Linked DNA regions of Homo sapiens: regions 1 and 3 are each linked to region 2. Evidence: fine-mapped expression QTL. A gene starts in region 2. Each other region holds a variant in brackets. All regions are shown on one strand. Distances are from middle to middle. Region 1 overlaps MICU1 (mitochondrial calcium uptake 1). Region 2 holds the start of MICU1 (mitochondrial calcium uptake 1). Region 3 overlaps MICU1 (mitochondrial calcium uptake 1).

Region 1 (8,000 bases), 250 kb before region 2:
CCAGGGGTTCGATTTCTCAGTATCATCATGCCAAGGGCTGAGGTGCTAATGTGAGAAAGGTGGGTAGCTTGAAGAGGATGGGCTGGTACACAGATGCTGTCCGCAAGGCTCCATTATACACAAGGGCCTCTAAGGGCAGCTAGGCTGTTTCCCCTCCGGGCTCCAGAGGGCCCCACTCACCATCACAGTCAAAGAGTGCAAACACCACATCACACACGTGGTCTGAGAGCTCCACTTTAGCCACTGTCCTGGCCACCTGCTGCATGGTCACTGAAAAAAGAAAGAGGTGCATTAGCACAGCAGAGGGATTTTCATTTTGCTTTCTCTGATTCAGGGGATAAAACGACTCAGTCATAATACAAGTTTTCAACTGCATTTAAGTCACATTTAAGAAAATGATAAGTTAGGCTGGCCACAGTGGCTCATGCCTGTAATTCCAGCACTTTGGGAGGCCGAGGAGGGTGGATCACCTGAGGCCAGAACTTCAAGACCAGCCTGGCCAAGATGGTGAAACCCTGTCTCTACTAAAAATACAAAAAATTAGCCGGTGCCTGTAATCCCAGCTACTTGGGAGGCTGAGGCAGAGAATTGCTTGAACCCGAGAGGCGGAGGTTGCAGTGAGCTGAGATCACGCCACTGCTCTCCAGCCTGGGAGAGTGAGACTCCGTTTCAAAAAAAAAAAGAAAAAATGATAATTGAGTTTTTATTCATAAGCTCCCTCCTTTTCACCTCAAGTTCTGTTCTTTTCTACTGCTGCTACAGTTTAGGAGGTATATATAGTTAATTAAGAATGCCTAGGCTGGCCAGGCGCGGTGGCTCATACCTGTAATCCCAGCACTTTGGGATTCCGAGGCAACATGGCGAAACCCTGTCTCTACAAAAAATACAAAAAATTAGCCCGGCATGGTGGTGTGCACCAGCTACTTGGGAGGCTGAGGTGAGAGGATAGCTTGAGCCCAGGAGGCAGAGGTTTCAATGAGCTGAGATGGCGCCACTGTACTGGAGTAACACTCTATGTAACAGAGTGAGACACTGTCTCAAAAAATAAAAAGTGCCTGATATTCAATTTATAGACAGAAAGTAGATTAGAGGTTATTGTGGGCTGAGGGGAATGGGGAGTTACTGCTTTATGTATACAGAATTTCTGTCTGGGGTGATGGAAAAATTTTGAAAATAGTGATGATGGTTGTACAACATTGTGAATGTAATTAATGTAATTCCACTGACTTGTATATTTAAAAATGGTTATAATGGCACATTTTATGCCATATATATTTTTATATTTATATATATATTTATAGAAATATATAAATGGGTGGTGGGAACAAGGAGGCTTGTCTGTGGTGTGAGTACACTAAGGCTTCACGCCTTGGTGGGTGAATGACAGCTAAGTGCCTGCACAGTGAGCCCTCCCTGCCCAACTCTGTCCCTCCTCCCTACTGGTTTTGCACCAGACTTCTTCCAACTGAGCCCATTGGTATATGCACTGGCCCTTGTCTTAACAGTTCAGGATGCGTATCTTTCTTTTTTTTTTTGAGACAGAGTCTTACTCTGTCCGCCAGACTGGAGTGCAGTGGCACGATCTCGGCTCACTGCAACCACTGCCTTCCGGGTTCAAACAATTCTCCTGCTTCAGCCTCCCAAGTAGCTGGGACTACTGGTGCCTGCCATCACGCCTGGCTAATTTTTATATTTTTAGTAGAGATGGGGTTTCACCATGTTGGCCAGGGTGGTCTTGAACTCCTGACCTCAGGTGATCTGCCCACCTCGGCCTCTCAAAGTGCTGGGATTACAGGGGTGAGCCACCACACTCAGCGGGCCCGGCCAATAGTTCAGGATGCATATCTTTCTTTTAAAAAATATATATTTTTAGACCTCAGCAAAAAATCACTTTTCTCTTGCCGTTTTCTCTTTCCCAGACATTCACCGTCAAACACTAGCAATTATGTTAGAATTGGGTTCTCATGAAAGACAAGACAGGAAGGACGAGGCAATTTCCACTGCCTTCTCTCTCATTTATCCTCAAACCTGGTCTAGCTACACCTATAAATCATGTTATTGCTTCTGGACACATTCTTAAGTGAGGTAAAATATGAGGGAAAGAAAAGGATTAATTTCCATTTATGCTGGTAATGAAGAGCTCTCTATAATCATCACATTAGATTCATCCAGAAGCCAAGTGAACTTAAACTAGAACCACTGTGCCTTGTTTATCGCATTCCTATAATTTCAGTTCCTATTATCAGCCCATCTTGTCATTTTTTGCATTTGATCTTTCACTTTGCCTCTATCACCTCCATATATTTACCCGATACGGTTTAGATTTGTGCCCCCACCCAAATCTCATGTCAAATTGTAATTCCCAGGCCAGGCGTGGTGGCTTACACCTGTAATCCCAGCACTTTGGGAGGCCAAGGCTGATGGATCACCTGAGGTCAGGAGTTCGAGACCAGCCTGGCCAACATGGTGAAACCCTGTCTCTACTAAAATAAATACAAAAATTAGCTGGGCGTGGTGGTGCGCACCTATAGTCCAAGCTACTCAGGAGGCTGAGACATGAGAATCACTTGAACCTGGGAGGCGGAGGTTGCAGTGAGCCAAGACTGTGCCACTGCACTCCAGCCTCGGTTACAGAGCGGGACTCTGTCTCACAAAAGCAAAACAAAAACAAAAAAACCCTGAAAATCCAAAAACAAATGGTAATCCCCAGTGTTGGAGGAGGGGCCTGGTAGGAGGTTACTGGATCATGGGGGCAGATTTCCCCCTTGCTGTTCTCATGATAGTAAGCGAGTTCTCATGAGATCTGGTTAAGTGTGTGGCACCTCCCACCTCTCTCTCTTCCTCCTGCTCTGGCCATGTGAGACGTGCCTCCTTCCTCTTCGCCTTTCACCAGGATTGTAAGTTTCCTGAGGCCTCCTCAGCCATGCTTCCTTTACAGCCTGTGGAACTGTGAGCCAATTAAGCCTCTTTTCTTTATAAATTACCCAGTCTCAGGTAGTTCTTTATAGCAATGCAAGAATTAATTAATACATCACCACAGTGCCCCCAACATCAGCAGATGCAAACACTGGAGCAATGCAGAGGAGCAAGGTAATGCGGTAGAAAACAAGGCTTGGAGTAACGGGACCTGGGCTCCAGTTCTGGCCCCACCACCAACGTGCTGTGTGACCCGGATGGAGTCACTTGATCTCTTTAGATTTAATTTTCTCATGTTCAAGTGGAGGGATGCCACCAGACAACTGCTGAGGCGGCTTACTAGCACAAAGAAGGGTTTATTGGTGTCATCTAGAATCTGAGGGTGAGGTTGGGGTGGAAATATCCCATCTTTTCTCCCAGGATCTGAGTTAGGGTGAAGAGGAAATTAACATTCTTTGGTACTAAAAGACTGAAGTATAAGATATTGTGGTGGATATTCATGAGATGTGTGTTGGGAAATCTACAAGACTATAGCGCTCTAGAGTTTAGAAATTTAGCCTCACAAATCTAGATACTTGATTTGGCTCAGGAAAAACTTATTCCTGCTAACTAAACTGTCCACAGAAGGAACAGAAATCAGGCCAATTTGCAATAAGAATAGTAACTGTTAAGAGAACTACAATGATGACAGCTGGTCATTATACTTCTCAGTAGGAAAGCTACTAAGGAAACCCCATTCACCTCAGAAGATTAACCTCAAAAGATTACTCAGTGAAAACAGAATGAGATCAGAAGGAACTGGAAGCGCTTAAACTGTGATTGCCTACAGCTTTACTCTTTGCTGCCACAGAAATGTGTCCTGAGAAGGGGATCGGAACCTGTTCTGTATTAGATAAACATGAACACTTTCTGTTAACCATTCC[T/G]TTTTCTGCATTTCACATCAACCTTAAGCTTCTGACTTCCTTTTCTCTTTCCCAGTTCTTCCATTCTCTCAGGGCACAGCCTTCTGCAATTGTCTTGATATTTCAAGTACTCATCTTCTCCCCATGAAGATGGTGCCCTTTCCTGTAAATAAACCATTAATTAAATAATACTCAAGGATGTCAGTGAGAGCTCTTGACAATTTCTAATGAGAGGCTCATTAAATTGGTATTAAGTGGTTGTAGAATAGGGACTTCTGGAGGCCTCCAGCAAGAATGCCTCATTACAGATGCCATCTCTTCACAGAAAGTTATAGATTATGTTCCATCTCACATGGAGAGGGCTCTGGTGTCCTTCCTACCATAGGAGGAAGAACTAGGGCTGCTAAGTTATTGTAGCCCAAACCACTGGGATGTTAGCCAGCAAACAGCCTAGCTGGGGTCCCCTTTCCTGGTACAAGATCCTCATTATAGGCCCCTGGGGTATGAATCAGAGTCGTGCAGGAAGCCAACATTTAATAGCTGGTGAGCTGTCAAACTAGGAGCACCTGGGATGAGTGGGATGACGGCAGATTACAAGCCAAGTGCTTGACAGCTGGTCCTGAGAGTTGGTTCATTCATATTTGCTTCCAATATCTCTGAATCCAGTCATAATCACAGCAAGCAGAACAAGTTTTCCTCCCAGATCTCAACTTTTTTATGCAGACCAGTTGTTGGTACTGGAATTCTGGCCTCCCTATTTGATGATGCTGACTGATGGTTGGGATTCCAGCTCCCAATCTGAAAGATGTCTACAGGGAGCATGAAGGCACCCCAGCGAAGGCCTAGCTTTCTAAATACTACGTATTTTTGTACAAATCTGGCCCAGCTGCCTGAACAAAGGGTTTAAGTGCGATTGGGTGATTCCTATTAGATTGGGATGGGAGAGAATTTGTAGAAGTGGGCTCAACTAGTACTCAAAAATCTGGCACCATCTGGCTTTTTGCAAAGTCCAGGCAGAATCCGAGTTGTGTCAGGTCCCCAATTTACTCTCCAGCATGATTCATGACTGGCTGTTTCAACAGTAAAAAGAAACCCTGAGTTTGTGTGATATAATATCAGAAACTACATACATAAATCTATTCACCACAATAGTTAAACAGAAGAGCTCTGAAGTGATGAGAGCCCAAATGTCCACTTGGAATCAGAGAATCTTAGAACTGGAAGATACCTCAGAGGAAATGTGACGTTAAATAATTTGCCCAGGGTCACAATGCTAGATGGTAACAGAGCTGGGTCTCGAATTTTGGCTGGTGCCCTTTCCCTATACACACTGGGTCCACATGATCCCTTCCATATATGGACAATATCAATTCCTCCATGACATGAATCTGTCACCCTGAGGAGAAAGGGTTTAGATTAAAGAAAAGTCACATGGGAAATACTCAAGTCCTTTTGGTGAGGGATGAATGAATAATTGAATAACTGGGAGTTGTGAGGCACCAGCATTAATTATAGGTTGGCCGTGGATCTGACTACCCCCTACAGTGGAAGACACTGAGTATTCCCTAGGAACTCATACCGACAATTTTAGGGACAACTTAAAAAGTGTATTCAACAGCAATCCAACGAAAAGCACATGTAACGAATGTGGCCCTGGGAGTTTTTCTCCACAGCTGCCTCTGATGCACAGATACAGCTTTAGGCAGCATGACCCAGTTAGGAGCTACCTGCCTCTTCCTAATGCAAAAGTGTTTGGAAAGGTGGTATGACAAGTTGGGCTGACAGTCTCTAAGCTGTGTGGCCATGTACTATTCCTGCCTTACCGGACTGCAGTGGAGAAAATCAAAAGCTGACTGGTGATGGCCAAGGTTAAGTGAGGGGAGATGGTTCTGCTTCAGCCCTGGAAAGGCTGATGCAGATGTCTTGTTTTCTTAAGTCCATCCCTAGATGGCTTTGGGTGGAACAAGGGGGAGGATATTTCCTTAAAGAGCATGTGTCCTGTCTTTTGTATCTCCTTCCATGAGCTTTTGTTAATACAAATGCACATTTTAACCTAGTTCTGGGGTGAGGGGAGGGGAAACGACAACATTTAGGAGAACTAGCAATTTAAGGAGCCAAGAGCAATGCAGCCTACAAGTAATGGAAATGATAACAATTCCTTGTTCTGTACGGTGCTCTTAGGCCCTATGCCCGCTGACCCCCTGTGTACTCAGGCTGCCTGACTGTCAGAGGTGATGCTGCTAATCCTAGCTCCTAACTTCCAGGACACACCACGGAGAAGATCTGTTTTCTGAGCCTGAGCGCATCATCCCAGATGATGGCTTCAATGGGCTTACACGCTTAATTTGGTACAAACTAACTTGGCAGTAAGATTTATTGCCATTGTCTAGTATTGTATCTGGGTTTATTAAAAATCCCCATCACATCTTTTCCACAAAGGGCTAGCATTTCTGCAAGCATCATTAGGTAGTCAATGATTTCAGCTGACACACCCATGGGACAATCACAGTTTGGTGGAGGAGACTGTGTATATATATATCTATACACACACACACACACACACACACACACACACACACACACACATTAAGATGGAGAAACACGTAGAAGAGACAGATATCAGATATATTAATACACACATATGGGAAATAATGGAATAGTGTGTATTTGGTACGAGTTACATTTTGGATCTGAATTCTTTTTTTTTTTTGAGACAGTCTTGCTCTGTCGCCCAGGCTGGAGTGCAGTGGTGCGATCTCGGCTCATTGCAACCTCGCCTCCCGGGTTTAAGTGATTCTCCTGCCTCAGCCTCCCTAGTAGCTGGGATTACAGGTGCCTGCCACCACGTCCGGCTAATTTTTTTTTTTTTTTAGTAGAGACAGGGTTTCGCCATGTTGGCTAGGCTGGTCTCGAACTCCTGACCTCAGGTGATCCACCCGCCTTGACCTCCCAAAGTGCTGGGATTACAGGCATGAGCCACCGCGCCTGGCCTGTATCTGAATTCTAAGGGAGAAAAGAGACCAACTGCGCATGTATGGTAGTGAGTGATGTGGGTTGGGGGTTTCTGTTTGAATACAGTATTAAAAGCAGGAAGGAGTGCTAAGGCCTGATTAGAGAGTTAGAACAGAAGGTGCAGGGGGTGAGTACATTAGGAGAAATCTTACAGAGGACTAGTCAAGTCTCCTTGCAAGAAAGTCTTTAAAACAGGCCAAGTGTGGTGGCTCACGCCTGTAATCCCAGCACTTTATGAGGCCAAGGCAGGCAGATCACCCGAGCTTAGGAATTCAAGACCAGACTGGCCAACATGGCGAAACCCCGTCTCTACTAAAAATACAAAAATTAGCCAGGCGTGGTGGCACATGCCTGTAATCCCAGCTACTCAGGAGGCTGAGGCAAGGGAATCACTTGAACCCGGGAGGCGGAGGCTGCAGTGAGCCAAGATCACGCCACTGCACTCCAGCCTGGGCGACAGAGCAAGCCTCCGTCCAATAGTAACTTGCTTTTCCCTCTCACATTGTTTAAATATTCATTCTGTTAGCTTTATTTTAAAAGTTGTTTTTAATTAGGACAGGTGCAGTGGCTCATGCTTATAATCCTAGTGGTTTGGGAGGCCAAGAATGAGACCAGCCTGGGCAATAGAGGAAGACCTCATCTCTACGAAAAATTTTAAAAAACATTAGTTGGGCACGATGGTGCGCTCCTGCAGTCCTAGCTACTTGGGAAACTGAGGTGGGAGGATTACCTGAGCCCAGGAGTTCAAGTCTGCAGTGAGCTATGACTGCACAACTGTACTCCAACCTAGGCAACAGAGCAAGACCCTGTCTCAAAAAAAAAAAAAAAAAGATGTTTTTGATTCGCTAATATAGTCATCTGCTTCAAAATTTGAATGGTACAAAAGGGGTGAAGTCTCTCTCCCAACCTTATACCCCAGTCACCCAGTCATTCAGAGACAATCAATGTCACTAGTTTCCCCAGAAATATTTTGTAGATATAAAATCAAATATGTACTCTTCGCTTCTTCCCTTTTCCCACAAAATGGTGGTGTACTAAATATTGTTTTGCTTTACTCACTTAACAACATATCTTAGAAATAATTCCAGATGGACATGAGCAGCTTCCTTCAATAGCTGCATAGTATTCCACTGACAGGATGGATCATAATTTCCTTGTTTATTTAACCAG
Region 2 (11,180 bases):
ACTAAAGTTTCAATTTTCTCATAGTAAAACCCATCTTGAACTTAATATTAGTCTAGGAAACATTTATGATCTGCAAAAAATTGATCACCCTGTTAGTTTGGGGGAAAAAAGCTGAGTCTACTTCTAGCCATTTCTTGCCTCATAAACAGAACTAAAACACCTCTCCCACGATGTGGCAATATTTAACTTTTCAACGACAGGTTATTAATTATATTTAATGTCAATCACTTCTCACAGTTGTCCAATTCCACAGCTACCTTTTTTTGCTTTTTCAACTGACATTCTGTTACCTGTTTTACCCACAGGTATCTTATCTACAGGTATCCACTCTATCGTGCTCTTAAAGCATGATTGGCCAGGCATGGTGGCTCATGCCTGTAATCCCCATATTTTGGGAAGCCAAGGCAGGCGGAATGCTTGAACCCAGGAGATTGAGACCACCCTGGGCAACATAGTGAGACCCCGTTTCTACAGAAAAAAAAATTGTTTTAATGATGAACCACCAGAATAAGGCATAAAGATACAAAACTAGTGTTAATTATAATTTTAAAGTTAACACCCAGTAATAGCAATTAGTTATAATTATGGTAATTTATTTTACATACCACGTTCAAAATAAAGTGGTTTTGGATGGGCGCAGTGGCTCACGCCTATAATCCCAGCACTTTGGCTAGCAGATCACCTGAGGTCAGGAGTTCGAGACCAGACTGACCAACATGGTGAAACCCCATCTCTACTTAAAATACAAAAAAAAAATAGCCAGCCGTGGTGGTAGGTGCCTGTAATCCCAGCTACTTGGGAGGCTGAGGCAGGAGAATTGCTTGAACCCAAGAGGCGGAGGTTGCAGTGAGCCAAGAACGCGCCATTGCACTCCAGCCTGGGCGACAAGTGTAAAACTCCGTCTCAAAAAATAATAATAATAATAAAAAAATAAAGTGGTTTCTATACTAACAGATTTTTAAACATAAAACAATGAAAAGAACCAAGTATTTAATCATATCCACAACATGTATTTAAATATTTAAAACATTTTTATTTACTATTTATTAACTGCAGTTACTAATCAAGTTCACCCAAAGCAATAAAAATATCAAGAATTTATTTTAACAAGCTGGCTAATACATAATATATTTAAAGTTATAAAACCTGAATATTCCAGAGCAGGGGTACTAAACATGTAATAACAGTACAGATACACACACTGGAAGAGTGTAAATTTTTTCAAGTTCTTTAAGTGATTATAATAGGCATTAAAAATAGAAAAAAATCAACACATAAACTGTAAATACAATTTTTTATATTGCAAAAGGAAACCAAGTTCTCTTATTTATTTATTTATTTATTGAGCCAGAATCTTGCTCTGTCGCCCAGGCTGGAGTGCAGTGGCACGATCTCAGCTCACTGCAAGCTCTGCCTCCCAGGTTCACGCCATTCTCCTGCCTCAGCCTCCCCGGAGTAGCTGGGACTACAGGCGCCTGCCACCACACTCGGCTAATTTTTTGTATGTTTGTTTTTTTAGTAGAAACGGGGTTTCACCATGTTAGCCAGGATGGTCTCGATCTCCTGACCTCGTGATCTGCCGGCCTCAGCCTCCCAAAGTGCTGGGATTACAAGCGTGAGCCACCGCGCCCGGCCCCAAGTTCTCTTAATTAAAAAAAAAAAAAAAACATGAAAATTATTTTAGTGAACATCTGTTGTTTTTGCCTGTCCAGCAACCAATTGCTCTTCTCCAGAAAGCATCACCTCAATTTTTCTTTAGGAACTGTCACCCACCCTTAACTCAAATGGTTTCAAACTATATTCCTCTCCTTCCCACTCCAGGATAGGGACAAATTCCAAGCCTAGCCACACAAAGCATTCCATCACTCTGGCCACAGGGACTGCCTCTAGGATGGGCAAAGACCCAAGTCAGGTCAATGAAACTACCATACAGTGGTGCGCTGGAACTGTAGAGAAAGGGAAATTCTCTTTCTTCTTGGGTTTCTGAGGTTGAAGGAAGTAAGCCTAGTGCTGGTATTACAATCTTTCCCAGGGAATCTGACTCCAAAGCCTTACTTTTCCACACTGAATCCCAAATATGCAAAGGGAACTAGTGGTTACCTGGTAGTAAGAGAAAAGATAAATTAGGACTTTGACTTTCAATATTGTATTTTCGATAATGTTTCCATTTTCCAAAAATAAGCATATTACTTCAATAATAGGAAATTTAAAATGTTTAAAAATATTGCCCGTGTTTTCTTCTCAAACATGCTTATTCATATTTCAATATCTTAAAAGTATTAACAATTTTCTCATAATTTACCAAAGCACATAGAATATCCATCTAAAAACAATCACCTTCTTCTCCTGGCACAAAATAAAGCTATTACAATATTTTCATTTTTAAATTATGAGTGGGAGGCCAGGTACAGTGGCTCACACCTCTAATCCCAGCAATTTGGGAGGCTGAGGCGGGCGGATCACTTGAGGTCAGGGGTTCGAGACCAGCCTGGCCAACATAGTAAAACCCCATCTTTACTAACAATACAAAAATTAGCCGGGCGTGGTGGCGCACGCTCCTGTAATCCCAGCTACTTACGAGGATGAGGCAGAAGAATCACTTGAACCCCGGAGGCAGAGGTTGCAGTGAGCCAAAATCGCGCCATTGCACTGTAGCCTTGGCAACGAGAGTGAAACTCTGTCAAAAAGACAAGACAGAGCGAGACTCCGTCTCAAAAAAAAAAAAAAAAAAAAAGACAAGAAAAGAAAAGGGAAGGGGAGGGGAGGGAGAAAGAAAGGGAGAAGAAAGAAAAAAAGAAAAGAAAAGAAAGAAAAAGAAAATATGTGTGGAAAAAACAGTTGAGTAAACCTTTTTAAAAAAACTGGTTCTAGTGGCTAGGCATGGTGGCTTGTACCTGCAATCCCAGAACTTTGGGAGGCCAAGGCGGGAGGATCGCTTGAGTCTGGGAGTTCCAAGACTAGCCTGGGTAGGCCAGGTGTGGTGGCTCAGGCCTGTAATCCCAGCATTTTGGGAGGCCGAGGCAGGTGGATCACCTGAGGTCGTCAGGAGTTCGAGACTAGCCTGGCCAACATGTAAAACCCCATCTCTACTAAAAATACAAAAATTAGCCAGATGTGGTGCCGCGCCTGTAGTTCCAGCTACTTCGGAGGCTGAAGCAGGAGAATTGCTTGAACCCAGGAGGCAGAGGTTGCAGTGAGCCGAGATCACACCACTGCACTCCAGCCTGGGCAACAGAATGAGACTCCGTCCCCACCCCTCAACAAAAGGACCAGCCTCGGCAAAATGGCTGAACCCCATCTCCATTTAATTAATTAATTAATTAATTAAAAACTGGTTCTTATTTTAAAAGGGATACACTAAACAACTGCATATGGAAAAAATGGTTAATGTTCAGCAAGTGCTGCAGCCATTGTAAAAATGGCTCAAGAGATAAAGCTAACTTTAAAGACTGAAGGTGGCAAAATTGGGTTTAAAAAAGCTTTATCAATTATATTAGTCCTATAACTCTGAATAGCATAAGATCTGAAGGAGTTGGTCAGTTAAATATTTCAATTATAATTATTTTGCATAATATTGCATTATGGAGAAATTTCATATCGTTTTATTCTTTTGTTGTTGTTTTAAGAGACAGGGTATCGCTCTGTCGCCCAAGCTGGAGTGCAATGGTACGATCACAGCTCACTGCAGCCTCAACCTCGAGGGCTCAAGCCATCCTCCTGTCTCAGCCTCCCAAGTAGCCAGGACTACAGGCATGCGCCCAGCTAATTTTTGTGTTTTGTAGAGATGGTCTTGCCATATTGCCCAGGCTGGTCTCAAACTCCTAGATTCAAGGGATCCACCCGGCCTCCCAAATTGCTGGGATTATGGGCCTGAGACACCACACCCAGCCTGTTTTATTCTTAAACACAGGAAAGTTAGTCTCAAGATGCACTTCTTAGGAATGTAAACAATCTACTGAATATAGTAAATATAAAGGAAGACAGCAATAAACACTTTTGTTCTCTTGCATTTATTAGCTTCTATTAGTTTCTATCATTCTTTCCCTTTCTCCTCAGGCACACAAGCCACTCCAGAATATTCACTTTTTGTTAATATTATGTTTTATGGCTCTCAGTAAGGACACTCAGAAGATGTCAGAGACACTTGCTTGATATATTAGGTAGCCAGAGTGATGTTCTTAAGTGGAAGAGACAATCAGGGACAAACCAAGGATTGGGACAAAGAGTAGCTGGAGGCAAAAGCCACCTTCCTACAGACAAGTGGCAATGGGTTCTAAAGTTTTTAGGATAAGGCAATATTCAAAAAGCTCATTACCTGGTCCACACCAGAAACACAGTAGGTGGGTCATTCTGGCCAACACCTTTGTCTCAAGATACTGACGTTTATTATTTGTCATATGGTCCAATGAAACCTAAACTCTCCTACAGCTATCCACACCGAACTTGTTTCACCTCATGAAATGCAAACTCCTTTCTTATACTGCTCGATCACTTCCCTACGTGCCCCAAAGGGATGTTCTAATATAAACAAAGGCATATCAAAGAAGCCACCCAAACAAGTGAGATAGAAACATTTATTGATAAATAGGAAGAAAATGGGCGTTTCTAAGGTACCACAGGAAAAATAAAATATTTTACTCTAGTCCCTTAGCTATAAGATATTTATTCTACTTATATTTACTAATGGCCACCGTATTTTTTAAGACATGGAAAATTGGAAGGTAAAGAAACCATCAACCATAAGATTACAGAGAAGGCAACTTGAAGAACAGTTTGTTTTAAACTGTTCTCCCAACATTCACATAGAGTCAATAACATCTAGCTCTTTCTCAAAACAGCCTATGGCCGGCCAGAATGCGACGGTGAAAACAAAACAGGGAGAACGTAATGAAAACGGGAAGGCGCTGGAAAAGATAAAAACTGAACAGTCCGAGTAGCCTGCACTTTGTATTTCTCCTTTGAGTCCTCACTGATTTTCCACTTATTTCGATTCAGTGGTTAATATTTCTCCGTATTAGAAATCCATCTGTGAACTCCCGCACCCACTTCTAACCACATCCACAAATTCCAGGAGAGCCAGTCAAGGCTACCAGAGTGTCCCAGTCGCCTGTGAGGAGGGGGGCGTCGGCGCCAAGTTGCGAACCCGGCACTGGGAGAAGTTCTCCCGGGACGGGAGAAGGGACGGGTTGGGGTGAAGGAAAGTGGAGGACGGGAGGCAAGCAAGACTACGGACTCCTCTCCAAAAGCTGAGCGCATCAGGGAGAGACAGGTATCCCGCCAGACCCGAGAAGTAGCCGGATGCCCGGGGCGGACAAACGGCCAGCCACGAAGCCCAGTTCCCTAAGGCTGTCTCGCCAACCCCCTTCCCCTTCGCCTTCCCTAAATTGCTGTCTCCTTATACCCTCCAGAGTCCAAGACTCACGCGTCCAAACACGAGCTCCAGCAGCCTCTCGGTCAAAGCCGCCCACCTCTGACAGCCATAGAGATGAAACAGCGGAGACAAACCTCCACCCCCTCCGCCCACTCTCACGTGACTCTCCTAGCCGCTGGGCCTGTCGGGATCGTGGAGACAGGCGTGTGGGAGGGGCACAGAGGAAAAGGAACGGGGAGGGGCGGGGAAATCAACGCGCCACGCCCCAGCCTCGGGCCCCGCCCTAGCCCCGTCACTCCCCCTTACTCCCCTCAGCGTTTAGGCGGGAAAGCTGGAGAGCTCCCAGAAGCTCTCGGGCATTTCTTCTGGTTTTTTTCCCCTCCACAAGGGTCATAGGAATCTGTTGAGAAATTTACTGTGGCTTGTAACACCTCCTCGGTACCCGTTTTCGTGTTGGCTATGTTGGCTAAGCAAAAAGGAGTTCGTGAAAAGAAAACTGGACCACAGTGAGTTGGAAATTGTTTCTTTCCAACTCCGTTTAGGTTTTCTCAGAGATTAAATGTTCCTGTTTCATAACCTTGAGACTTTTTTGGATTTAGAAACCCTCACCACTTCCTCTGGTGGATGATTTTGTCAGGTGTTTTATTTGCAGACTAATATTATTGCAGAGTTTATAATCTCTAGAAGCCACTTAAAAACATGTTTTCCCTTGAAGAATGTGTTTTTTGTTTGTTTGTTTGTTTGTTTGTTTTGAGATAGAGTTTCACTCTTGATGCCCAGGCTGGAGTGCAGTGGAGCGATCTCGGCTCTCTGCAATCTCTGCCTCCTGGGTTCAAGCGATTCTCCTGCCTCAGCCTCCCAAGTAGCTGGGATTACAGGCATGCGCCACCACGCCCTACTAATTTGTATTTTTGGTAGAGACGGGGTTTTTCCATGTTGGTCAGGCTGGTCTGGAACGCCCGACCTCAGGTGATCCGCCCACCTCGGCCTCCCAAAGTGCGAGGATTACAGGCGTGAGCCACTGCGCCCGGCTGAAGAAGGTGTTTTTATCAGAAAAATGGGATGGCAAAGGATCCTCACCCCTGCTGTGGAAATAGGATGGAAATATGACTATAATACCAGAGAATTTTTTTGGGGGGGGGGCAGCGGGGTGTTGGTTGGTTGTTTGTTCGTTTGTTTTGAGACGGAGTCTCGCACTGTCGCCCAGGTTGGAGTGCAGTGATGCTCACTGCAACATCCTCCTCCCAGGTTCAAGTGATTCTTCTGCCTCAGCCTCCCGAGTAGCTGAGATTACAGGCACGCCCCACCACGCCCGGCTAATTTTTGTATTTTTAGTACAGACGGGGTTTCGCCATGTTGGGCAGGCTAGTCTCAAACTCCTGACCTCGGGCGATCCTCCCGTCTCGGCTTCCCAAAGTGCTGGGATTAACAAGTGCGAGCCACCTCGCTGGTCCCAGAGAACTTTCAAATAATTTTTTTTTCCCAAGAATTTACGTAGCAGAGCTGTGGAAAAGGCAACAACCATGGAAACAAAGCCAACAAAACCATCCCTGGGGTAAATTGTGAAGTAAGCAGAATCAACTCTGTTTTCTCCATTTCTTCTCAGACCCAACTAACCTAAGTACAATAGATGATTGTGTTCATGGCTCTGTGCTAGCGCTTTACATACAACCCAGTGCTTGTCTACAACCACTCTAGGATGGATACTGTTTTATTCATTTGCAGATAGGGAAGCAGGCTGACACCCCTAGGTAATGCAGTACATGCAGTAGCGGGACATAGACCTGACCTGAAGGCCTCTGAGGCTTCCACTCTTAAATGATGTAATTCAGGCCGGGCGCGGTGGCTCACGCCTGTAATCCCAGCACTTTGGGAGGCTGAGGCGGGCGGGTCAGGAGATCGAGACCATCCTGGCTAACACGGTGAAACCCTGTCTCTACTAAAAATACAAAAAATTAGCCAGGCGTGGTGGCGGGCGCCTGTAGTCCCAGCTACTCGGGAGGCTGAGACAGGAGAATGGCAGGAACCCGGGAGGCAGAGCTTGCAGTAAGCCAAGATCGTGCCACTGCACTCCAGCCTGGGCGACAAAGCGAGACTCCGTCTCAAAAAAAGAAAGAAAGATTTGCTGAAATTCAATTCTAATTTTAGGCAACATTTGTCTATATAAAACTAATCAGTCAAACTAACTGTTAAATAACATTTAAAAACATAAATCATTGTTTCTCAAACGTTTTGGTCTTAGGACCCCTATACACTTAAAAATTATTGAGGACTCAAAATAACTTTTATTTATGTGTGTTATACCTATCGATATTTACCATATTCGGCCAGGCAGAGGCTAATACCTATAATCTCAGCATTTTGAGAGACTGAGATGGGATGATCACGTGAGGCTAGGACTTTGAGGCTACAGTGAGCTATGATCATGCCACTGCACTCCAGCCTGCGCAACAGCGCAAGAACCTGTCTCTATAAACTTTTTTTAATTTAGCATATGAGGACTTAAAATTGAGGCCGGGTACAATGGCACCCAGCACTTTGGGAGGCAGAGGCGGCAGATCACCTGAGGTCATGAGTTCGAGACCATCTTGGCCAACATGGTGAAACCCTATCTCTACTAAAAATACAAAAATTAGCCAGGCATGGTGGCACACGCCTGTAATCCCAGCTACTCAGGAGGCTGAGGTAGGAGAATCGCCTGAATCCGGTAGACAGAGGTTGCAGTGAGCCAGGATCATGCCACTGCACTCCAGCCTAGGCCTCAGTGACAGAGCAAGACTCAGTCTCAAAAAAAAAAAAGAGAAAAGAAAGAAAATTAAAATTGAAATTATTTTAATGTGTACTTAGTCATTTAAAAATAATAGATCCATTATATGTTGACATAAATAATGTATTCTTAAGAAAAACAACTTCAAAAAAAAAGAGTAGCATGGTTTTACATTATTGCAAATTTCTTTTCTTTTTTTTTGAGACAGAGTCTCACTGTGTCGCCCAGGCTGGAGTGCAGTGGCACGATCTCGGCTCACTGCAACCTCTGCTTCCCGGTTTCAAGTGATTCTCCTGCCTCAGCCTCCTGAGTAGCTGGGATTACAGGCGCATGCCACCACGCCCGGCTAATTTTTTTGTATTTTTAGTAGAGACGGGGTTTCACCATGTTGATCAGGCCGGTCTCAAACCCCTGACCTCGTGATCCGCCCACATCGTCCTCCCAAAGTACTGGGATTACAGGCATGAGCCACTGTGCCCGGCTGCAAATTTCTTTAATGTCTGGCTTAATAGAAGACAGATTCTTGTATCTTTTCTGCATTAAATGTTTGCACTCTTACACTTCATGTAGCCTCTGGCAAACTCTACTATATACTCAAGAAAGAATTAGAGCGATAAGGCAAATAACAGTGTATTAGTAAGAAAACAGTCTTGACCTTACAGATTACTAGAAAGGGTTTCAGGAAACCTCCAGTGGTCTTTGACCACACTTTGAGAACCACTGTTTTAAACCATACAAATGTTAAATGCTATTGTATATTTTGTCTAGTCATTTTGGCATCAAGTAGAACATTTAATGGAAAGGAGAACAAGACAGAGACAATTTACAGACTAGGCCAATCTTATACAAATAAATATGAGATGTGAGTATTCTTTCTTCATTTCTTTTTTTTTTTCTTTTTTTGAGACGGAGTCTTGCTGTGTCACCCAGGCTAGAGTGCAGTGGCACAATCTTGGCTCACTGCAACCTCCACCTCCCAGGTTCAAGTGATTCTCCTGCCTCAGCCTCCTGAGTAGCTGGGATTACAGGCATGCGCCACCATGCCTGGCTAATTTTTGTGTTTTTAGTAGAGATGGGGTTTCACCATTTTGGCCAGGCTGGTCTCGAACTCCTGACCTCGTGATCCACCCGCCTCAGCCTCCCATAATGCTTGGATTACAGGCGTGAGCCACCGCATCTAGCTCCTTCTTCATTTCCAAGAGTATAGAGTAAGTTAGCAGAATTCAAGGTCATAACCAAACACAGCTATATTCTACATTAGAAATCTGTCCATCAATTCAGTATTGTTTTTCAGGATGCTATGCAATGTGTTCCGAGTCATATAAATGTATGATATCACTAATCAAGGTTTATATCTCCTGTACAAACTAATAATAAGACTCCTCTGGTGACCAATAAAATTTGAAGTCAAAATTCTTTCACAGACATATATTGAATACCTACATATTAATATATGTAATGCTCACAACTAGTGCTGGGCTTGTAAAAATTTATAAGCTCGATTCCTGCCCTTGGGCAACTTGTATCTATAATGAGACTTGCACCACCGTAAAAATGTATTTTTTAACAAGTTCAGTAGTTCCCAAACCAGTCTGGTGATCAAATGCCTGGGAATTATCTGAGGAGATTTTTAAAATACAGATTCTTGGATCATGAGACACACTGCTTCAGTGAACCAGGGTGATGCTCTGGAATCTGGATTTTAAAAGTCCCAGGTGATTCCCCTGCAATGATAGGATTGGGAATGAATACTAAGTCCTGTATACTTGACAAATAGATTTGATCTTTGCCCCCAGGACTATCATACTATCATATGCAAAATATAATGTTTATTTATTTCATCTTCAGTATTTCAAAAGTGTGTTGTGTTGAAAGATCTGTGTTATCAAGGGACAGTATTTAATGTCATTCACTAAAAATAGAAATTGGTGTCCTTATGTCATACATTTTATAGTTCATCTATTCTTATCACATTAAAATAATATGTGTTACCACAGCAGTCTCCAACATATCACACCACTGTAAAAAACAAAAACATCTTTTGCAACAAGTATCAGACTACAAAAAGTTTATTTTCTAAAGCTTTCATTCAGTTTCTTTAAAATGAATTCAATGAGATGGTCTTTGTTTTATTACACTTATCTTCAGGGTTCCATAGATTATGGTATCTCAAAACCTATGCAGTCGTCCATCACAAACTCCTTTTGAATATATATATCAGAGACAGAGACAGAGAAACAAAGAGACAGAGAGTCTTAGAGTCTTACTCTGTCGCCCAGGCTGGAATGCAGTGCACCATCTCAGCTCACTGCAGCCTCAACCTCCCAGGCTCAAGTGATCCTCCCGCCTCAGCCTCCTGAGTAGCTGAGACTACAGGTGCAAACCACCAGCCCTGGCTAATTTTTTGTAATTTTTGTAGAGACAACATATCACTATGTTGCCCGGGCTGGTCTCGAACTCCTTGGCTCAAGAGATCCACCCACCTTGGCCTCCCAAAGTGCTGAGATTACAGGTGTGAGCCACCACACCCAACCTTTTTGAAGTTATATTGTACTTGAGTAGCTATCTAGAGACTTATGACCCATAGTTGTTCTTGCAGTGAGTATTCTTCTCTAATACTTATAGCCAGAATTAATTATGTTCAAATAAATATGAAAAAAATTTTAAAAAAGCTTAAATGTTTCCTGGCTTTTTACCACTAGGAGGTGGGAGGATGGCATAAATATGATGATTTATAAAAATTGACATATTCTCCTTGATTTTATGATTGAAACTAACTTCAAAATTAAAGAATCTCTGCCCAGATCTTGATTTCTGAACTACCTTTCTCCACAAAAAGGAACTAAGTCTTCTTGAAAACAGGGCTGGTTTCAAGTCTACAGCAGGAATGTACAAGATGACCTGGAACATCTTGTTGTGTCCAAAAGTAAGGAAGCAATCAGAAAATAAAATGAGGACATGTCAAAGGGAGCCAGCTTGAAGGCCCATCACTGGCCAAATCTGGGATAATTGGAGTACCAGCATAAGAACAGTAATAAGTGG
Region 3 (8,000 bases), 150 kb before region 2:
TAGTATACAGTAAGTCTTCACTAGGTTCTAGGAAACTGAGACTTTAAGTGAAACAATGCTTAACAAAACCAATGTTACCATAGGCTAATTGATAAAGATGAGAGTTAATTTCCTATGGCATATTTCTGGTCACAAAAACATCAGCATGGCTGGGAGTGGTGGCTCACACCTGTAATCCCAGCAGTTTGGGAGGCCGAGGTGGGCAGATCACCTGAGGTTGGGAGTTCGAGACCAGCCTGGCCAACATGGTAAAGCCCTGACTGTACTAAAAACACAAAAATTAGCTGGGCGTGGTGGGGCACGCCTGTCATCCCAGCTATTCAGGAGGCTGAGGCAGGAGAATCGCTTGAACCTGGGAGGTGGAGGCTGCAGTGAGTGGAGATCGCGCCACTGCACTCCAGCTCAGGAGACAGAGCAAGACTCCATCTCAAAATGAAAACAAAAGCATCACCAAATTTCTAAATAAAGACCCAAAACACTTCTAATAGTAAACACTGAAATAAATGTGAGCTATATATATAGATCTAAGAAAGATTGATAAAAACAAGTAAGATAGTCATTTACCCAATTTTTAGTGATTAGATGTCGGTGGTCATAGTGGTGGTGGGTTAAATCAAGAAATAAATGTTTGCAAAGTGAAAATTGTAATAAGTACCTCCTCCTACCATGAAGTTCAAACATAAACAATAACCAATATGGCAGTCTCACTGAGAGCTTTTGCACTGCATTGTTTATCATCTACTTTATGAGTTTATTTCACAATAATTTGCATTCTTTCATTTTCTAACATGCTTATTCCAGTTCAGGATGGAGGATGATCAGAGACTATCCTGGCTGCTCTGGGTGCAAAGCAGGAACCCACCCCAGACAAGATGCCGCTCCATCTCAGGGCACACTCACACACACCCACTCACTTAGACTGGGACCATTTAGACACTCCAGTGCACCGAACATGTACATCTTTGGGATATGAGAGGAAACCGGAGTACTCAGGGAAAACTCAAACAGACAGGGGACTCCGCACAGAAAGTGGCTCTAGGGGGAAATCAATTTGTTCCCGCTCATCAGTGTTACAACAAAACGACATTGAACAAAACAACACAATTGAGACAAGTGGGTGGAAAAGGTGAAATCATATATAAGAATCTTGGGGAAACAGGGAAAGCAGATACAGAAGTAACATACATAGTTTAAAAACAACATAGCACCTTTCTCCAGTATTTTCACCTGTTTTAGTTATAGTAGTTAATGTTTTGAAATTCCAAATAATATTAAGGTAGGGCGTGTGTTAAAAGAAAAAGAGAGGCCGGGTGCGGTGGCTCACACCTATAATCCCAGCACTATGGGAGGCCGAGGCAGGAGGATCACATGAGGTCAGGAGTTCAAGACCAGTCTGGCCAACATGGTGAAACTGCGTCTCTAATAAAAATACAAAATTAGCCGGGTGTGGTGGCACATGCCTGTAATTCCAGCTACTCGAGAGGCTGAGGCAGGAGAATCGCTTGAACCTGGGAGGTGGAGGTTGCAGTGAGCCAAGATCATATCATGCCACTGCACTCCACCCTGGCTGATGGAGTAGGACTGTCTCAAAAAAAAAAAAAAAAAAAAAAAAAAAAAGAAGAAAAAGAAAAGAGGTTGGGAAACACCAGTGTAAGAGAATTTTTAAAAATGTCAAGAAATTAGAGACTAGATTTTTGTCTCCAGACAAAAATACATATAGAAGGCATTTGATCAATGTTTTGAATGGAACAGAATAAATAGCTAGAATAGCATGATGGTCTAAACTTTAAATGGAAAAGTAAACTTGTAAATCCCCAAACACAGTAAGATACCTTTGCAACTCTCAGCAACATTGCCTTAAACAATTAAAGAGACAGGATCTCACCGTGTTGCCCAGGCTGCTCTCAAACTCCTGGGCTCAAGCGATTCTCCCACCTTAGCCTCCCGGGTAGCTGGGACTATGGGTGTATGCCACTGTGCCTGGTTAAGCACATATATTTTATATTAAGCACACATATTTTTATTCTGACATTTTGTGTTTCCAGCTCTTACTACCTTTGCAATTATCCATCCTTCTTCATCTCCATCTTCTGGTGTCTTCCACACAATAAACAAAAAAGCAGGAATATATGCTCAGATTGAGAACTGCTGTGACCCCTGAGTTTCTTTCTCCACAAACGGAACATACAAAGACAGCTAAGATTTTTCAATTTAGAGGTTTTTGGTTTTAGATTACAGAAATACTTCACTTCATGACATTTTCACAGAACATGTTGTTTCCTATCTGCTGTCAGTTTATAAAGCACTGATAAGCTTCAAATCAATCAGTTCTCACAGCTGGAGGTAAATGGAAAGAATGCCTATAGTACAGGCCCTCCTGCCCATCAGTTCCACATGTGATGGATCTACTGAGTCTAAGGAAGACCTACCTCAAGCTTCAGAACATCATGCTGCAGTTTACGCTGAAATTCGAGGAAGTTTTTGATTGTCAGCTTTCCCTTCAGATCAGCTCCAAAAAAGTAGGTTGTGAGGGCTGAACACAAGCCAGACTTGAGGGTGTTGCCAGTAGTTGGACGATCTCTGTGGCGCATACCCATACTGGTTTGGGAGCGAATGATGCTCTGAACCTAATACAGAATCAAACCCACATCCAGAAAAATATTAGGAAGTGAGAAAACATAAACATAGAAAAGCAAGAATCATAACTATTGTTTACTATTTGCCTACTCTGTATTATAATTATCTCTTTTAATGCTTACAACAATTTTTTTTTTTTGAGACAGAGTCTCTCTCTGTCACCCAGTCTGGAGTGCAGTGGTACAAAATCAGCTCACTGCAACCTCCACCTCCCGGGTTCAAGCAATTCTCATGCCTCAGCCTCCTGAGTAGCTGGGACTATAGGTACACACCATCATGCCTGGCTAATTTTTTGTATTTTAATAGAGACAGGGTTTCACCAGGTCGGCCAGGCTGGTCTTGAACTCCGGACCTCAAGTGATCCTCCCACCTTGGCCTCCCAAAGTTCTGGGATTGCAGGAGTGAGCCACCGCGCCCAGCCTACAATAATCTTATAGGTGCTATTATTATCCTTATTTTATAAATAAGATTGAAGCACACGGAATTAAATAACTTGCTCAAGGTCAAGTGGCTGGTAAGTAGCAGAATTAGGGTTCTAACACAGACAGCCTGACAACTTTATAATTGGGATCCTCTTAGAAAATCTCTGTTCAGGAAAGGATGAACATTTGTTTTGGAGACTCAAAAACTCTCTCATGACCAGGTGTGGTGGCTCATGCCTATAATCCCAGCACTTTGGGAAGCTGAGGTGGGTGGATCACCTGCGGTCAGGAGTTCGAGACCAGCCTGGCCAAGATGGTGAAACCCCATCTCTACTAAAAACACAAAAATTAGCCGGGTGTGGTGGTGGGTGCCTATAATCCCAGCTGCTCAGGAGGCTGAGGCAGGAGAATCACTTGAACCCAGGAGGTGGAGGTTGCAGTGAGCCAAGATTGTGCCACTATACTCCAACCTGGGTGACAGAGCGAGACTCCATCTCAAAAAAAAAAAAAAAAAAAAAGAGACAGGGTCTTGCCTGTCATACAGGCTGGGGTGCAATGGCACGATCATAGCTCACTGCAACTTCAAAATCCTGTGCTCAGGTGATCCTCCCACCACAGCCTCCGGAGTAGCTAGGACTACAGGCACATACTACCAATCCCAGCTAATTTTTTTTCCCCCTGTAGAGATAGGGTCTCACTATGTTGCCCAGGCTGGTTTCAAACTAGCCTCAAGTGGTCCCCCAACCGCCTCTGCCTCCCAAAGTGCTGGGATTATAAGCATGAGTGATCGTGTTCAGCCCAGTTTCTTACCTTATATAATGTACCTGATACTTTCTCCCACTTCCTGGAATATTTGCCCCTTTCCTCATTTTGAGAATACAAAAAATGCTTTTTCCTATACATACAGTTTTTCTGTTTTGAGACCACTTCTGGCAATCATAATAACTGTATCTGGAGAAGCACCATGGTTCTCCAATGGCAGTAGTTCTATGGAAATGTAACCTATTCCTAGGATTTTGAAATTGTCACCTACTATAGTCAAAAATGGTATGGCACCATTTTTCCTTCTCTTATAGAAATCCTTTAAGAAAATATGTAGTCCTTGTATTCTGGAACTGCCTAGCACATAGCAGCTTTTTGGTAAATGTTGAATTGCCATAATTTAGCTTCCCAGCTAGAGGCATTATAACCCAATTTATGTTGGAGAATCGGAGCAACCGTGACCTTAACGGTATGTTCAAATAATTCATTACATTTAGAGTGAAAACAAACAAATAAAACCAACCCACCTGTTCAAAGAATAATTTTGAGAAATGACATTTTAGGTACTTCAAAAATTGGAATAGCCTCTGAGTATACTGACCAAGGCTAAGGTAACTCCAAGGCACATGAAAATGTATTTTAAATATTAATGTATTTAGAGGAACTCTCCAGGACAACTTGCCTGTTCAAATTCTTCCATATCTACTTCTCCATCTCCATTCAAATCAAACATCTTGAAGGCAATTTCAAAATTTCTCTGAGGAGCTGCAGAGGAGAGAAAAAAAATATTTAGAAGGCATTGACCAAAAATAAATCCCTTTTTAAAGAAAAACAAAAGGCTAAACACTAAAATGTAATATCAAAGTCACCATAAAAGTGACTGAGTCAAAGTCTCAATAAATGGAAAATGAAACTGCATTTATTGAGATCACCCTTTTAGGAATACTCCTTGAAACCAAAAAAGAGTAGTACTACGGCCAGTAAAGACAGCACTTGT[C/CT]TACCTTTTTGTTTCAACATGCTTTGCCTTAAATGATTTAGCTTTGCTTTCAGAGACACCATCTTCTTAGCTTAGTAATATTAACGTTCTGTTGCTTCAATATGGTATTACTTATCTGGGCAAGAAAGTATGTCTAGGGTGAGACATATTGCTGCAAAGTAAGAAGTTGAAACACTACATCTTAGTCTTACCCTCACAACAAGCCAGCTTTCTACTTTGTTCTTTCTAGTCTCTTTGTTGTAAGTGCAGTCAGGAGTTCTGGGCATGTCACCCTGCCAACATGGATAATTTCAAGTTGGTTTCTTTTATTAGTTTATTCATTATCACTACAGCTCTATGGTAAGGCAGAAAAGTACACTGTAAGGTACTCAGCCCCCTATTTTTTTTTCTTTTTTTTTTTGAGACAGTTTCACTCTGTTGCCCAAGCTGGAGTGCAGTAGTGCCATCTTGGCTCACTGCAACCTCCGCCTCCAGGGTTGAAGTGATGCTCATGCCTCAGCCACCCGAGTAATTGGGATTACAGGCATGTACAACCATGCCTGGCTAATTTTTGTATTTTTAGCAGAGACGGGGTTTCACCATGTTGACCAGGCTGGTCTTGAACTCCTGACCTCAAGTGATCCACTCGCCTTGGCCTCCCAAAGTGCTGGGATTACAGGTGTGAGCCACGGCGTCTGGCCTCAGCCCCCTATTTCGATCATGTCAGCTGCATACACAAATTACTAAATATACTTAAATGGTAAAATTAAGCTGAAGTTTAAATAACAAAATGAAAAAATGCAAAGCTTGACAAAACTTTCCCTTAATGATGAAAGCTTTTCAAGGCTTCTTTAGTGTTCCTAGATCAGTCATAATATCATTAATATACTCTGTGCATTGGAATAAAATATAAACTCAACAGCCCTCCTCCCTTCCCATACTAAATGTTCTGGTAAAGAAAACTAAGTTGTTTACTTCCTTCCTTTGGTGCTTCAAATTTATACAGCTCTAGAGAATAAACCAAAATAAATATTCTATGTGTCCTTATACTAGTGAATTAAAATTTCAGTTAACATCATTTACATGAAAAAAGTTAAGATTTTATGCAGAGAAAAAAGTAAAATGAACTTTGTATATTATGTATAATTGTTAGAGAGGCCATATTCCCATCCTGCTCATGAATTTGTCAACAGAAACACTTTCTGGGCTCAAATTCCATTTTCAGGTAGTTAGGCAGCTAGGCTGGAAACTCCTGGTTTTTAGTTGCCTGGGTGAATCATGTGTGTGTCAGCTTCCAATTGTCTGCTTCACTTGATATTGACTTCCAATAGGTTTGCTTTCCTTTAGGCCAGAGACAGGGTTTCAACATGTCAGCTAGGCTGGTCTTGAACTCCTGACCTCAAGTGATCCTCCCACCTTGGCCTCTCAAAGTCCTGGGATTACAGGTGTGAGCCACCATGACCCAGCCTTCAATTGCTGGGAAGGATGCAGCTGGGGGAATTAGTTTTGTATATTTGTTGTCACTTCTCAAATTTTTGCTACCTGTCTGAATGTTACATTTTACTGAGGAGTTACTATGTGGCAGGCATTGAGCTAGATAATTGGAGGTGTTTATTATTTGACTTCATACTCTCAATCTTGAAAACTTTCATTTCTTTATTGTTTAAACAGAGGAGGATATTGGGGCTCAAAGCAGTTAAATGGCTAGCTCAAAAATCACACAGCTCCTTTTTGGCAGAAGTGGGAATTGAACTTAAGTCAACACTGACTCCAAAGCCTACAAACTTTCCTTATGTTCCAAGGCCTCTAATGTGAACATAGAGGTACTTAAAATGATAAACACACACTCTTCATGCTGACACGATTTGACCTAAAAACTAAGCAACAAAACATGACACAGTGGTTATGTCAGTCTCTGCAAAAGCTGAACATTCCAAGTTGATCATCTCAAGGAGATAACCAATATCACAGAAACACTGCCTGTGTTATGCTCAGGAGTTTAGGCTTGACCGTAGTAAATGGAAGATCCACAGGCAACATTAAACTCTCAGATAGGTTTGTCATGTGTTTTTGTTTTTTGGGACAGGGTCTTGTTCTGTCATCTAGGCTAGAATGCAGTGGCACAGTCATAGCTCAATGCAACCTCAGACTTCTGGGCTCAAGCAATCCTGCCTCAGCCTCTGGAGTAGCTAGGACTACAGGTGCGTGCCACCAAGCCTGGATAATTTTTCTATGTTTTGTGGAGATGTGGTCTCACTACATTGCCCAGGCTGGTCTTAAACCTCCTGGCCTCAAATGATCCTCCTGCCTCAGCTCCCCAAGGTGCTAGGATTATAGGTGTGAGCCACAGCACCCGGCTGGTTTGTCATGTTTTTTAAACTTCTGATTATAAATCTCTTCAGGTGGAAATGTTCTCTCTTATTCTTCCTTATTTTGTCACACTTGGCCCACTTCACTCCTATATGTTATTTGCCTAATTCCTGTAGATACTTGAGAATGTAACAATGGCAGAAAATATGAAGCCACTGAAGGTTTTAAGTAGGAGAGTGACACAATCAAGCAATTATAAAGGACTTCTCCAGCTACTGTGTGAAGAATGAGTTGGAAAAGAAAGGCCAGCTTTAAAGAAGATCAGAAGCTCTTTTAAATGTTGAAAATGCAAACTGCAGTGATGGCAGTGGTAATGGAGAGGAGGGACACATTTGAGATACCCAAAGAAGGCAGAAATTATAGAACTTAATGATTAGTTAGCTGTGATGAGTTGAGAGTGAAAAGGAATGACAGCATGACTGGCTTAGACTACTGTGTAGCTTGCATGGCATGAAGAAAGAGAGCAAATAGATGTAAAATGTTTGAGAAATAAAATGATTTCAGACGGGATCTGCTAAATTTAAGGGGTCTCAGCTTATGCAGATGAAGATGTTCAGGAGACAGTTGGAAATATGGGTCTAAAGCTCAGTGAGAGAGGTTTAAGCTGGGATTTATGGGCATACAAGTGGCTAGCTGCAAAGAACCTGAAAGGAAGTTGCCCATGCAAAACTGAGGAGTGAGGAGAAGGTCAAGAAAAGGGTAGATTGCAGGTGGAAGCCAATGTTTAAAGTGCAACGAAAAGGAAAGGAGGCAGTGACAGAGGAAGCGGCATCACAATATCCAGAGGAATACAGCCCAAATTAATAGAAATAGGAAAACATTTGATAAGAGCG

The links.
Region 1: its variant is fine-mapped to the expression of MICU1 in whole blood (TOPMed, PIP above 0.99).
Region 3: its variant is fine-mapped to the expression of MICU1 in whole blood (TOPMed, PIP above 0.99).

Annotation. Positions count from the first base shown.
Region 1 is chr10:72,375,603-72,383,602 of GRCh38, forward strand. MICU1 (mitochondrial calcium uptake 1) reads right to left here. Exons shown (of 12, transcript NM_001195518.2): 11 at 181-270. Among named protein-coding and RNA genes, the nearest start is that of DNAJB12, 25 kb to the left of the region's middle. The variant T/G (reference allele first, on the strand shown) is at 3,840.
Region 2 is chr10:72,620,588-72,631,767 of GRCh38, forward strand. It overlaps MICU1 (mitochondrial calcium uptake 1), which reads right to left and starts at 5,492. Exons shown (of 12, transcript NM_001195518.2): 1 at 5,423-5,492. RefSeq lists enhancers at 5,259-5,796, 5,347-5,496.
Region 3 is chr10:72,472,671-72,480,670 of GRCh38, forward strand. It overlaps MICU1 (mitochondrial calcium uptake 1), which reads right to left. Exons shown (of 12, transcript NM_001195518.2): 7 at 4,504-4,586; 8 at 2,430-2,627. Among named protein-coding and RNA genes, the nearest start is that of DNAJB12, 120 kb to the left of the region's middle. The variant C/CT (reference allele first, on the strand shown) is at 4,819.